Linked DNA regions of Homo sapiens: region 1 is linked to region 2. The links come from fine-mapping of genetic effects on gene expression. A gene starts in region 2. The other region holds a variant in brackets. All regions are shown on one strand. Distances are from middle to middle. Region 1 overlaps LINC01471 (long intergenic non-protein coding RNA 1471). Region 2 holds the start of PODXL2 (podocalyxin like 2).

Region 1 (5,373 bases), 100 kb after region 2:
TCTATCAATGATCCAGCCTCAGGTACTCTTTCATAGCAACACAAAACGGAGTAAGACAGTCACACTGCAAAAGCGTGTGCGGGATGGGAGGTGCTGTGTGGTCGCCTCTGGAAATGTGATCTGCCCCATGGTCCTTCAGCCCTGTGTCTGGTGTGACCCTGGAGGTCCCTGCACCCAGGGCCACAAAGCTACTGCATCTCCCCTACACCCACCACCACTGTGCAGTGCTGGTCCAATCCATTATTTTGTGCTCCAGCCTCGGTTTCCCCATTCAATTCCCCACAGTGACCTGAAGGCCAGACCCTGTCCCTGACTGGATCTCTGTATTCAACTAGGGACAGGCAAACTCCTACCCCCTGAGAGGGTGACCTCAGAATCAGTTCCCCAAGTTCCAGTTCCAGTTTGCCCCTGGCCTGCCACACTGCCTGGAACTGGCTGCCTCTCCTCCATGAGGCTCAGCCTCTCGGAGGCCACCCACAGGCCTGGCAGTGAGTGCCTCCCTGTGTTTTTTATGGAGGATGCCTCTTTTGTCTCCCCTTGTCCCAGCCTGCACAGTGCCCTCCCTTTCCACACCCCCATGCCACCCTTGGCTGAAACTGGGTGGACAGGCCAGCCCTAGGCTTATGCCCCACTCTGACACCCCACTGGGCTCTATCTCAGCCCTGAACCCAGGTCTGCCAAATTCTATTTTGGTTTGTATATAGTGCGTTTGACAGCATCTCTTTGTGCAGATTTTTCAGTGGTCATTCCAGGTATTAGATTATACATATATAACTTATCACAGTTAGCTGATGTTGACATTTTATCAGTGGGGGGGGGGGGGGGGGGAAGAGGAGAAACCTAAGTCCTTCACTTTCCCTGTTCTCTCCCCCTGTATAACAATTCTTTTTAGTATTTCCTCTACATACGTTGGCAATCACATCATTCAGTGTTATAACTTTTGCTTCAATTGTCAAGCATAATTTAGAAAACTCAAGAGATGAGGTCTATTGTCTCTATCTATATTTTGTTGACTGTGTTCTTCCTTCCTTACACTTTGAGATTCCTTCTTTTCTCATTTTATTTGTTTGGCAAACTTCCTTTAATCACTCCTTTTGGGTAGGTCTGCTGGTGACAAAGTCTCTGTTTTTTTTTTCTTCTGAAGATGTCTTGATTTCCTCTTGATTTCTGAAGGATATTTTCACTGGATGTAAGATTCTGGGCTGAGAGTTCTTTTCTTTCAGCTCTTGAAAATTGCTGTGCCACTTCCTTTTGGTCTCCATGGTTTCAGTGAGAAATCTGCTGTCATTAAAATGGTTTTCCCTTACAGGTAAGATGCTGTTTCTTTTTTCTCTCTCTCTGTCGCCCAGGCTGGAGTGCAGTGGCACAATCTCGGCTCACTGCAACTTCTGCTTCCTGGGTTCAAGCGATTCTCCTGCTTCAGCCTCCCGAGTAGCTGGGACTACAGGCGCGTGGCACCATGCCCGGCTAATTTTTTGTATTTTTAGTAGAGATGGGGTTTCACCGTGTTAGCCAGGATGGTCTCGATCTCCTGACCTCGTGATCTGCCCGCCTCATCCTCCCAAAGTGTTGGGATTACAGGCGTGAGCCACCGCACCCAGCCTGTTTCTGTTTTTTTTTTTTTTTTTTGAGGTAGAGTCTCTCTCTGTCTCCCAGGCTGGAGTGCAGTGGTGCGATCTTGGCTCACTGCAACCTCTGCCTGTCAGATTCAAATGATTCTCTTGCCTCAGCCTCCCTAGTAGCTGGGATTATAGGCATGCGCCATCACACCTGGCTAATTTTTGTATTTTTAATAGAGACGGGGTTTTGCCATGTTGGCCAGGCTGGTCTTGAACGCCTGACCTTAAGTGATCTGCCCTCCTCGGCCTCCCGAAGTGCTGGGATTACAGGCGTTAGCCATGGCGCCTGGCCAAGATGTTTTTTTCTTGCCACTTTCAAGATTTTTGTCTTTGTCTTCAGTTTTCCGAAGTCTCAATAGAAGGTGTCTTGGCATAGGTTTGCTTTGATTGATGCCATTTGGGGTTTGCTCAGGTTCTTGAATCTGTAAATTTATGTCTTTTGCCAAATTTAGGAAATTTCTAAACATTATTTCCTTGAAAATCTTTTCAGCTCCACCCTCATCTTTCTTCCTTTCTGGGTCTCTCACGACATGGATGCTAGGCCTTTTGTAATAGAGAGACCAAAATATAGACCAAAATGTATATAGGCCAAAATATACATACCCGAGATTCTGCTCATTTTTATCTAAGTCTATTTTTTGCTTTGTTGTTCAAATTAAGTAATTTCTATTATTTTATCTTTAGGTTCACTGACTCTTCCCTCCAGCCTCTCTGTTCTGGCGTTGAGCCATCCACTGAGTTAATTTTGGCTGTTGCGTTTTCAACCCTGAGTTCCCATTTTGTTCCTCTTTGTGGCTTGTTTCTCTGCAGAGATTTTCTATTTTCTCACTTGATTCTGTTGTGTTTGCCGTTGAGCATTTTTGTGATGGTGGCTTCAAATTGTTCAGATGATGCTGCTGTTGGTGTCATCCTGGGTTAGTCTCTGCATCTCTTCTCATCAGGGTCGGTGTTTTCCTGGATCCTGGTGTGGAGTGATTTGTGATTGAAGCCTGGATATTAGGGGTTATGTGGTGGGGCTCCTGGCCTTATTTAAACCTCTGTCTCAGCAGCCTCCTTTGAGGCCCGGCTGTGGTGGACTTCCTTGCCCCCAGCTGGGCTTCTCCAATACCTTCCCAAGGAGGGGTGGCATCTCAGTCAGTACATCTGGGTGAGGGTGGAGGTCTAGGCTCCCTCCTCAGTCTCTGCTGGCCAGGGTGGTGTGGGGCCTCGTCTTTTCCTGTGTGGTCTGATGGCGTAGGTCAGTTATCTTCTAAAGTTTTCCAGAATGCCCCTTGCCTGGCTAGAGGGAGCAGGTTTTTT[T/G]GGGGGATTGTTTTCTGAGCCTGTTGGTATTTCTAGGTTGCTGACTCTTTAGCACCCAGTTTGGCAAACACGAAGCAAAAAGATGGAACTCACCACCATGCTGTTGCCAGGTCCTGAGGCTCCCAGCTTGTGCTTCTCTGCACATGTTAGGGCCTCCTTGTATTCATTCTACACAGAATACCCATGACTTTTAGCTGTATTTGGTGGGGGGAAATAAGAAAAAGTACCTTGACTTCTTCCATCTTTCTGGTTGCAGCAGTTCCAGTGGGTAAAGCCCTTTGAAATTGCACACATACACCATCCTCTACGCCAGCCTCCTTCAAGATTCTGAGCTGTGCACTGCTGTTATTCATACTGTTTGTCTGCTCTAATTGTCCAATTCTTGTGAAAAGTCTAAACATGACCTTGGGTGATACCCTGGGGTGCATAGAGCAGAAAGCCAAGCTATAATGAGAGGTTCCTTGGATCTCAGAGGGTGGGCAGGGTCTGGAGGCAGGGCAGCTGGGATGGGGCTGGGCTGAGGTTTGGAGAGGCCTGGGTCCAGGCCAGACGAAAGCCAGTCCTTGGATCCACAAACACCCACAGCCAATCCATGCTAATTCTACGCATTCATGAGTTGTCCTCTAAAACTCTTCTTCCCAATTTCCTCCAAAACCCTCCATGTCATCTAGGCCAGGGTCTACTCTATGCCCCTTTGCTGTGCTCATGGAAACTTTTTTTTCTTAACTTCAAAGACAAGTGAGCTCATGGAAACCTCTCCATCGTTGACCAGGATCTATAGGAAAACCCTCCTCTTCTTCTATATGCAAAGGCTGCACAGCTCCTGGTTCACCTGCACCTCTCCAGACCACCATGGTGCCTGCAGCTCTGAGGGCATTTTAAATCATCACAGAACAACAAGCATATAAGCATCATGAGCGCCTCTGGACCTCTGACGTGCCTTGTGGAGGCCTGCCAGGCCCACGTTTTAATTTACATGAACTCGATGCCCTTTTTGACAGGGAGAGATCTGTTTCTTTATTTGTTAGCCTTTCCCCTGGACCTGCTAGATCTGGACCATCCCCAGGAAAGGAAGGTCACACCACAAAGATAAATATAAACAAAATGAGTTAATTAAGAAGGAGTTAGTCTGAAATTCAATATTCCCAAGAGTCCAAGCCCTTCAGTTCTAAGTGAATTTTTCTCCCCTGTAAAATAGAACTGTTGGGTACAGTGAGATTCCATTGTATATGGTCTCACTTAGAATTTGTCTCATTTCACATATGCAAACACTGAGGCTCTGTGAGGTGAGAGATCTGCTGCACTAGGTCCTGAAAGGCACAGCCAGTGAGCATTCAGCCCAGGGTACATCTGCTGGCTTCACAGTTGCCCTGCTATTCTGTGGTCCAATGTGGCTGCTCTAGCTCCAGCCATCACATCTGCATTCTTACCAGTGGGAAGGGCAAAGCATGACCTTTCTTTTTAAGACACGTTTGAAGTTGCATACATCATTTCTGCTCATGTTTCACTGGCCAGCATTTAAACGGATGGGCATACCTAGCTGCAGGGAAGGCTGTAGTCTTCATTCTGGGATGAAGTGTACCCAGCTAAAAGTCTAGAGTTTTATTTCTATGAGAGAAATTGAGCATGGATACTGGGGGACAATGAACCATTTCCACTTCATCTTCTAATAAATGTGACAAGTGCAATGCTTGTCATATATTGTGTATTGACTCAATTCAGAACACACTGGGCATCTACCCTGTATAAGGCCTTGGCTTGAGCTCAATGGCAGATACACATATGTGTGAGACCAAAGGGCACAGGGAGGCCAGAAAAGAGAACAAGTGACATTTATTGAAGACTTATCATGTCCTGGACCAGGAGCTTTGCATACATCATTGCTTTTAAGCTTTGCAACTCAGTAAATCTGCAGAAACTAAGTTCCAGAGAAATGAAGTGCGTCTTAGGTCTGTTTTCCAGGGAAAGAAACTGTGAGATGAAGATTTGCATTCAGGAAGTTTATTAGGGAGTAGGCTCAGGCTCGACACTGGTGAGGGAGTGAGGGAAGGAGGGCTGGGCAGAGGGAGAAGTTGATTGCGGGCAACAGAAGCCTCAGCCATTCCTACCTGAATGGCCCTTCAGAGTGGTTCTTAACTTCTAATTAAGGGGCCAGGACTCTGTACCCCCTCACCAGCCAGACATTGGATGTGGGATGCCTACCAAAGCCCCCTTCCTCCCCAGGAGGGGTGTGACCTTGGGCGAAGCGGCTGCTGCTATCCAAGGGCACTACCCAGGGACGCAGCTGTCAGGCTTCAGCCTTCAACACTCCCAAATACCTTGGTCCAGAAGGAGGGGTCTGGGCTGCAAAGGACAGTGTCTTCTAGAAAATGACACAATCAAGGTCACATAGCTGGGGGTTCAGAGCTGAGATTCCAGTTTAGTTTTGTCTTCAGAATCCACGTGACTCTTCATG
Region 2 (5,373 bases):
TTCCAGTAAACAGTTTCATTTTCTTAAAGTTATTTTTCCCTCTAATGACTGTTTTGTCTTTACATAGAACTTGATATTTTCAAAGGCCTTGGCAATGGGTATTTATTTAAGTAATTACAAGAGGTTACTTATTTTCAAACTTGCCCACCATAAGATGACACCAAAATAGTAGCTGAGACATAGCCATTCTGTGTATAATTAGTTTTGCACTTAATAATTAATCTGCCTTAATTGAGACCCCACCTGACTTAAAATTTCAGAATTACACTCTGCGTGTGATTGATTTCCTTTTTCCCTCTAGCACCTATAATTTTCTGTTACATCATCACACCCAACAGAGGAGAGAGAAAAAGATGGCACATGAAAAGGATTAGGGGATCAGCCTCAAAGAAATGAAAATCTGACCCAAACAAACACAGAAGGAGGCAAAGGAAGCAGGCTGACATTTGGGGAGGTGAAAAAAACAAGACCCCAGCGATCCTCATGTTTTATCTTACCTTTTCAAATCAGTCCCTGTGATCTGCTCCCGGTGCAAAACTCCTTTCTGATTTCCACCATCAGCTACACCCCACCTCTCCCCTAAGCAGGGTCTTTGAAGTCCAGTCTCCCTAAGCTCTTGGCAGACACCAACATGGGAGGGGCCCTGCAGCATCTGTCACACAGCTCCTCACCCTTAAGTGTCAGCGACAACAGGAACTGCTGAGCACAGTCACGCTACCTCCACTCTGTAAGCACCTGAGAAACAATGCTGACAGGTCCCTGAAGGGCTTCCACACAAAGGTGTGTAAGAAAGAGACACACTGCTAGACACACGCACATGCCCTCCAAGCAGGGGGTAAGAAGTGCGTCATGAAGAGCATGCACGGGAGAGAGGAGCCGGGAGGCAGGCTGCCTGCAGTCCTCACAGCTGGTCACATAAGCACATGGGCAGTTACAGCTGGGCCTGGGTCCATGAGGACGTTGCTGGCCAGTTCTGGTTTATGACTGTCACACAAAGAAATAGCAGACCAATCAATTGATGTTTATTTATTGAATGTCGCCTTTTTCCAAAGAGGATTTACGGCGTGAAAGAATACAGGTGGGTTTGTGTGAGTGTCTGAGCCAACACTGATGGACATGTTTTTCTGTGCACACCACCTAGGGCCTTTCTTCATCCCTAGACTGACTGTGGAGAAAATGTACCCTCCCTGAACTGAGCCTTCCCATGACATGCACAGGAATGTGCGAGGGACCACTTTCCCCTCCCAGCCATTTACCCTGGGATTCTGCCACTCTGAGTCCCAGGTTCATGGCCCACCTCAGGCAAAGACTGTTCCTCCCTTCCCATAGAGACCCTTCACTAGTTTCTCTTTCACTCACACACATCTGGACACAAAGTGCCTGTGTCTTCATGGGCCAGCTGCGTGGGAAATGTCCTGTGCACACTCCTACATGCACATACACACTCCTACATGCACATACACACATCATACTAGGACGCTATTTTGACGTGTGCATCAGAAGTGAAGTTACAGCTGGCTGATGAGTGTGCACAGGCACACATGCACACTTCCTCATCCGGGTATTCCTCCAGCAGCACCAGTCACACCTTAACATACACCGTAACACACTCCCTCTGCTCTGCCAGTGTGTGCAGGAGCTGCTCAGCTATGACCTTATTTGACCCACCTTTGCAGACAGCCCTTCTCCCCGCCATTTCCATAGTGGCCGCCTGCCTCATGGGCTGTCACACCCCATGCCCACCTCCCTACACACCCCCTCCACTAAATCCCCGTCTGCGCTGGAAGCCATCAGGAGGCCCGTCTCTTTCTCTCTCAGGCAGACACATCCCTTTCACACCTGTGCCACACCCCCAGCCCGCCACGCACCCACACAGCCCGCCGCCCGGCGTGGCTGCTGAATGGAAACCACACATCTGAGTCTCACACCTCCCTCGTGTGTGAGCTGCGTGGGAGCCTCCCGCCGTGTGCTGTCACGGGCCTTCCGTGGCTGTACGCCCGTTTTTGTCAGCTCCTAATAGAGTCGCCCAGAACAGGAGAGAATACCCATTCACCGTGACACACTCACACTCCCTCCCGGCAACGCCACGCGTAAACAGCCACCCGCGCCTCAGCGTACCCGCCCCACACTCCGCAGGCGGCCCCTGGGACCTTCACAATGCGGCCTCCTCCCCGCGTGGCTGTCACACACGCCTCTTCCCCCGAGTGCGCAGGCACACAATGCACTCGCACACACACAAGCACACGCACACACATGCACACCCACACGTGCGCGCCCCCCCGGCCCGCGAGGCAGCAGCCTGCGCACCTGCCCCTGAGAGCCGCGGCGTGGGGGCCACGGTGCTGTGTCCCAGCTTCACCGCCGCGCCTTTGTCGGGGGTCGCCCGGCACGCCAGGCGCCCGCCGCGGCCCCCACGCACCCACTCCTCGTGCGCGTGTGTCGGGGCGGCGCCGCGGCCCGGCCGGGACACGCGCGCTCCCGGCGGCGCCGCACTCTGGCCCCTTTGTTGGCGGCCCGGGGAGCTGTCCAGCACCGCGCCCACGCCGCCGCCCGCCCTCCCGCGCTCGGGCCCGGAGCGCACTCACCCCCAACCAGCAGAAGCAGCAGCGGCGAAAGCAGCGGCGGCAGCCGGGCGGCCCGCAGCAGCCGGCCCATGGTGTAGCCGTCGCCGCCTGCAGCCGCAGCGGCGCGGCGCCCGGGCCCGCGTCAGGGGCCGCGCGGGCGGCGGCGGCGGCGCGCGCCCGCCCCATTGGTCCGCATGGCCGTCACTCACGCCCGGCCCCGCCCGGCCGCGTGCCGCGGGCGCGCCCCCGCGGAGACGAAGCGGACGCGCGGGCGGCCGTCCCTCCGCCCGTCCCCCCCGCCAGGCCGGCCAATCAGCACCGCCGAGGCTCGGGGGCTTGGCCCGGCCGCCCGCAGACCTGGGCCTCGCACCTCGCGCCCGGATGCCGCTCTCTCCCCGCGCGGTCACCCGTTCCCTGGGAAGCAGAGTGGGCAGCTGTGGCAGATGGGACTGATGGGACGAGGACGACGCGTGGAAATGACTGTGAGGGTGGACAGAGGCCTGGGGTAAGGAAAGACTTCTCAGGGTACTTAGATTGGGTGAGCCCTGAAGGAGAACCTGAGAGCAAAGAACTGGACTTTAGAGCTAGGCAGTCTGGCTCAGGATCAGATTGGTTCCGAGACCTTGAGTAAATCTCTTCTCACCTCTGGGCCCCACTTGCCCCATTTGCTAACTGGGGGGTTTTAGATTATGAGAGAGGTGCTGACTTCTCTAACATGTGCTCCCTTTTGGCAACTGAAGATCCTTAATATGCCAAGCACTGTAGTGGTAAATAAAACAGGCACATCCCTCGTCCTCATAGTTTAGGCTCGTAGAGAAAACAGACTGAAAAACAAAATGGACACACATATGGTCCTATGATTGCAATTGGTAGTCGGTCTGTTAAGGAGTATAAGGGGCTAGGAGACAGCACAGAGGGGAACCTTATGCTTGCCTTCCTGAAGAAACAGCATTTAAGGTAAGCTGGCTGGCATCTGGAAGGATGAGTGGGTATTAGGTAGGAGATTGGGTTTGGGAGAGAACTTACAAGGCAGAGGGAAAAGCTCACTGATAGAGTTCCTGAGTTAGAAAGAAGCTCAGCCTCTTTTAGGGAGAGAAAAACCCCGACTACCCTTTTAGAAGTACTGCAGCTTAAATATACAGCAACCACAATTTTGTGGAATGTTACTTTATATATACCATATTAGGAAAACACTTCTTTAAAATAACAAATCGTTATTTGAATATGCTTTTTCAAAGTATATCCCCACCCCCCTATGCAGGGGTATAGCATCAGACATTGGAGATAATCTCACGGGACTCTTCCAGACTAAATATTAATACTTAGGAGAAATAGGAGTTGGGGTGGAGGAGCATAGGGAAGAAATGGGTTCCAGACAAAAGAAAGAACATGAGCAAAATGTAGCACCTTTTATTTGGTGGGTGTTAGGGGTACTAGAAAAGTGGCTGTCAGCTGGGCTTGGAAAAGAGAAATCCAGGGTGTGTCTAGACCCAGCTTCCCTCTTCTTTCCTCCTCTGAGGATGAAAGGAGCATCCCTTTGGTTTTTTGTTGTGTTTTGTTTTGTTTTTCTGTTACAAGAAACAAAGATCTTAGAAGCAAACAAGAAATGGAAGGAAACGTCCTCAATTCCATTAAGGGTATCTCCCAGAAACCTTTATTATCATACTTAATGGTGAAACCATACTTAATGATGAAACATTAGAAACATTCTCTTTTAAGTGAATGGAACAAAATAATCCTCACTACCACCACAATGATTGAATATTCTATAAGAGACACTGCAACAAGGCCTGATAGAAGAAATGGGATGAAAGTATTGGGGGAAAACTCATTATTTGCAGGTTTATCTAGAAAATGCAAGATCATCAGTTGGCAAAATAATTGAAAACCAATGAGTTCAGCAAGATTGCTGAATAAAAGATAACGTACAGAAATCAATAGCTTTTCTGTGTATCCTCAATAACCACTTAGAAAATGTAGTAGGAGAAAAGATCGCAATCACAGCAACAATTATTAAAAACTGGAATAAACCAAACCAGATATGTAAGCTCCAAATGAAGAAAACTCTAAAGCTGCCAGGGGTGGTGGCATGTGCCTGGAATCCCAGCTACTTGGGGGAGACTGAGGTAGGAGGATGGATCACTTGAGGCTAGGGGTTTGAGACCAGCTTTGGCAATATGGTGAGACCCCCATCTCTAAGTAAATCAATTAGCCAGGTGTAGTGGTGCATGTCTGTAGTCCTACCTACTTGGGAGGCTGAGGTGGGAGGATCACTTGAGCCCAAGAGTTCAAGATCAACCTGGGCAACAAAGCAAGATGCCATCTCTATGAAAAATTTTAAAATTAGCCAGGCATGGTGGCACACACCTGTAATCCTAGCTACATAGGAAGCTGAGGTGGGAGGATTGCTTGAGCACAGGAGTTCAAGGCTGCAGTGAGCTATGATTGTGCCACTGCACTTCAGCCTGGGTGACAGAGTGAGACTCTGTCTCAAAAAAAGAAACAAAAATTTAAGTGAAGGCAATCCTCAGAATGGGAAGAAACATTTGGAAATCATGTATCTAGAATATACAAAGAATTTTTACAAGTCAGTAATAAAGACAACTCAATGTTTTAAAATGGACAAAGATCTGAATATACATTCCTCCAAATGTCAATAAGCACATGAAAACATGCTCAGCCTCATTAACCATCAGATAAATGCAAATCAAAACCACAATAAGAAACCACTTCTCAGGCTGGGTACGGTGGTTCACGCCTGTAATCCCAGCACTTTAGGAGGCCGGGCTGGGTGGATAGCTTGAGGTCA

What was found. PIP is the estimated chance that this variant, and not a neighbour inherited with it, causes the effect.
Region 1: its variant is fine-mapped to the expression of PODXL2 in whole blood (TOPMed, PIP 0.96).

The regions. Positions count from the first base shown.
Region 1 is chr3:127,526,989-127,532,361 of GRCh38, reverse strand. The region is part of intron 5 of LINC01471 (long intergenic non-protein coding RNA 1471); the gene reads left to right. Among named protein-coding and RNA genes, the nearest start is that of LINC02034, 7.7 kb to the left of the region's middle. The variant T/G (reference allele first, on the strand shown) is at 2,919.
Region 2 is chr3:127,626,502-127,631,874 of GRCh38, reverse strand. PODXL2 (podocalyxin like 2) reads right to left here and starts at 2,690. Exons shown (of 8, transcript NM_015720.4): 1 at 2,586-2,690. The coding sequence starts at 2,655. It overlaps LOC107986126 (a long non-coding RNA gene), which reads left to right and starts at 2,912. Exons shown (of 2, transcript XR_001740892.2): 1 at 2,912-3,069. RefSeq lists an enhancer at 1,988-2,047 and silencers at 2,448-2,577, 2,688-2,757.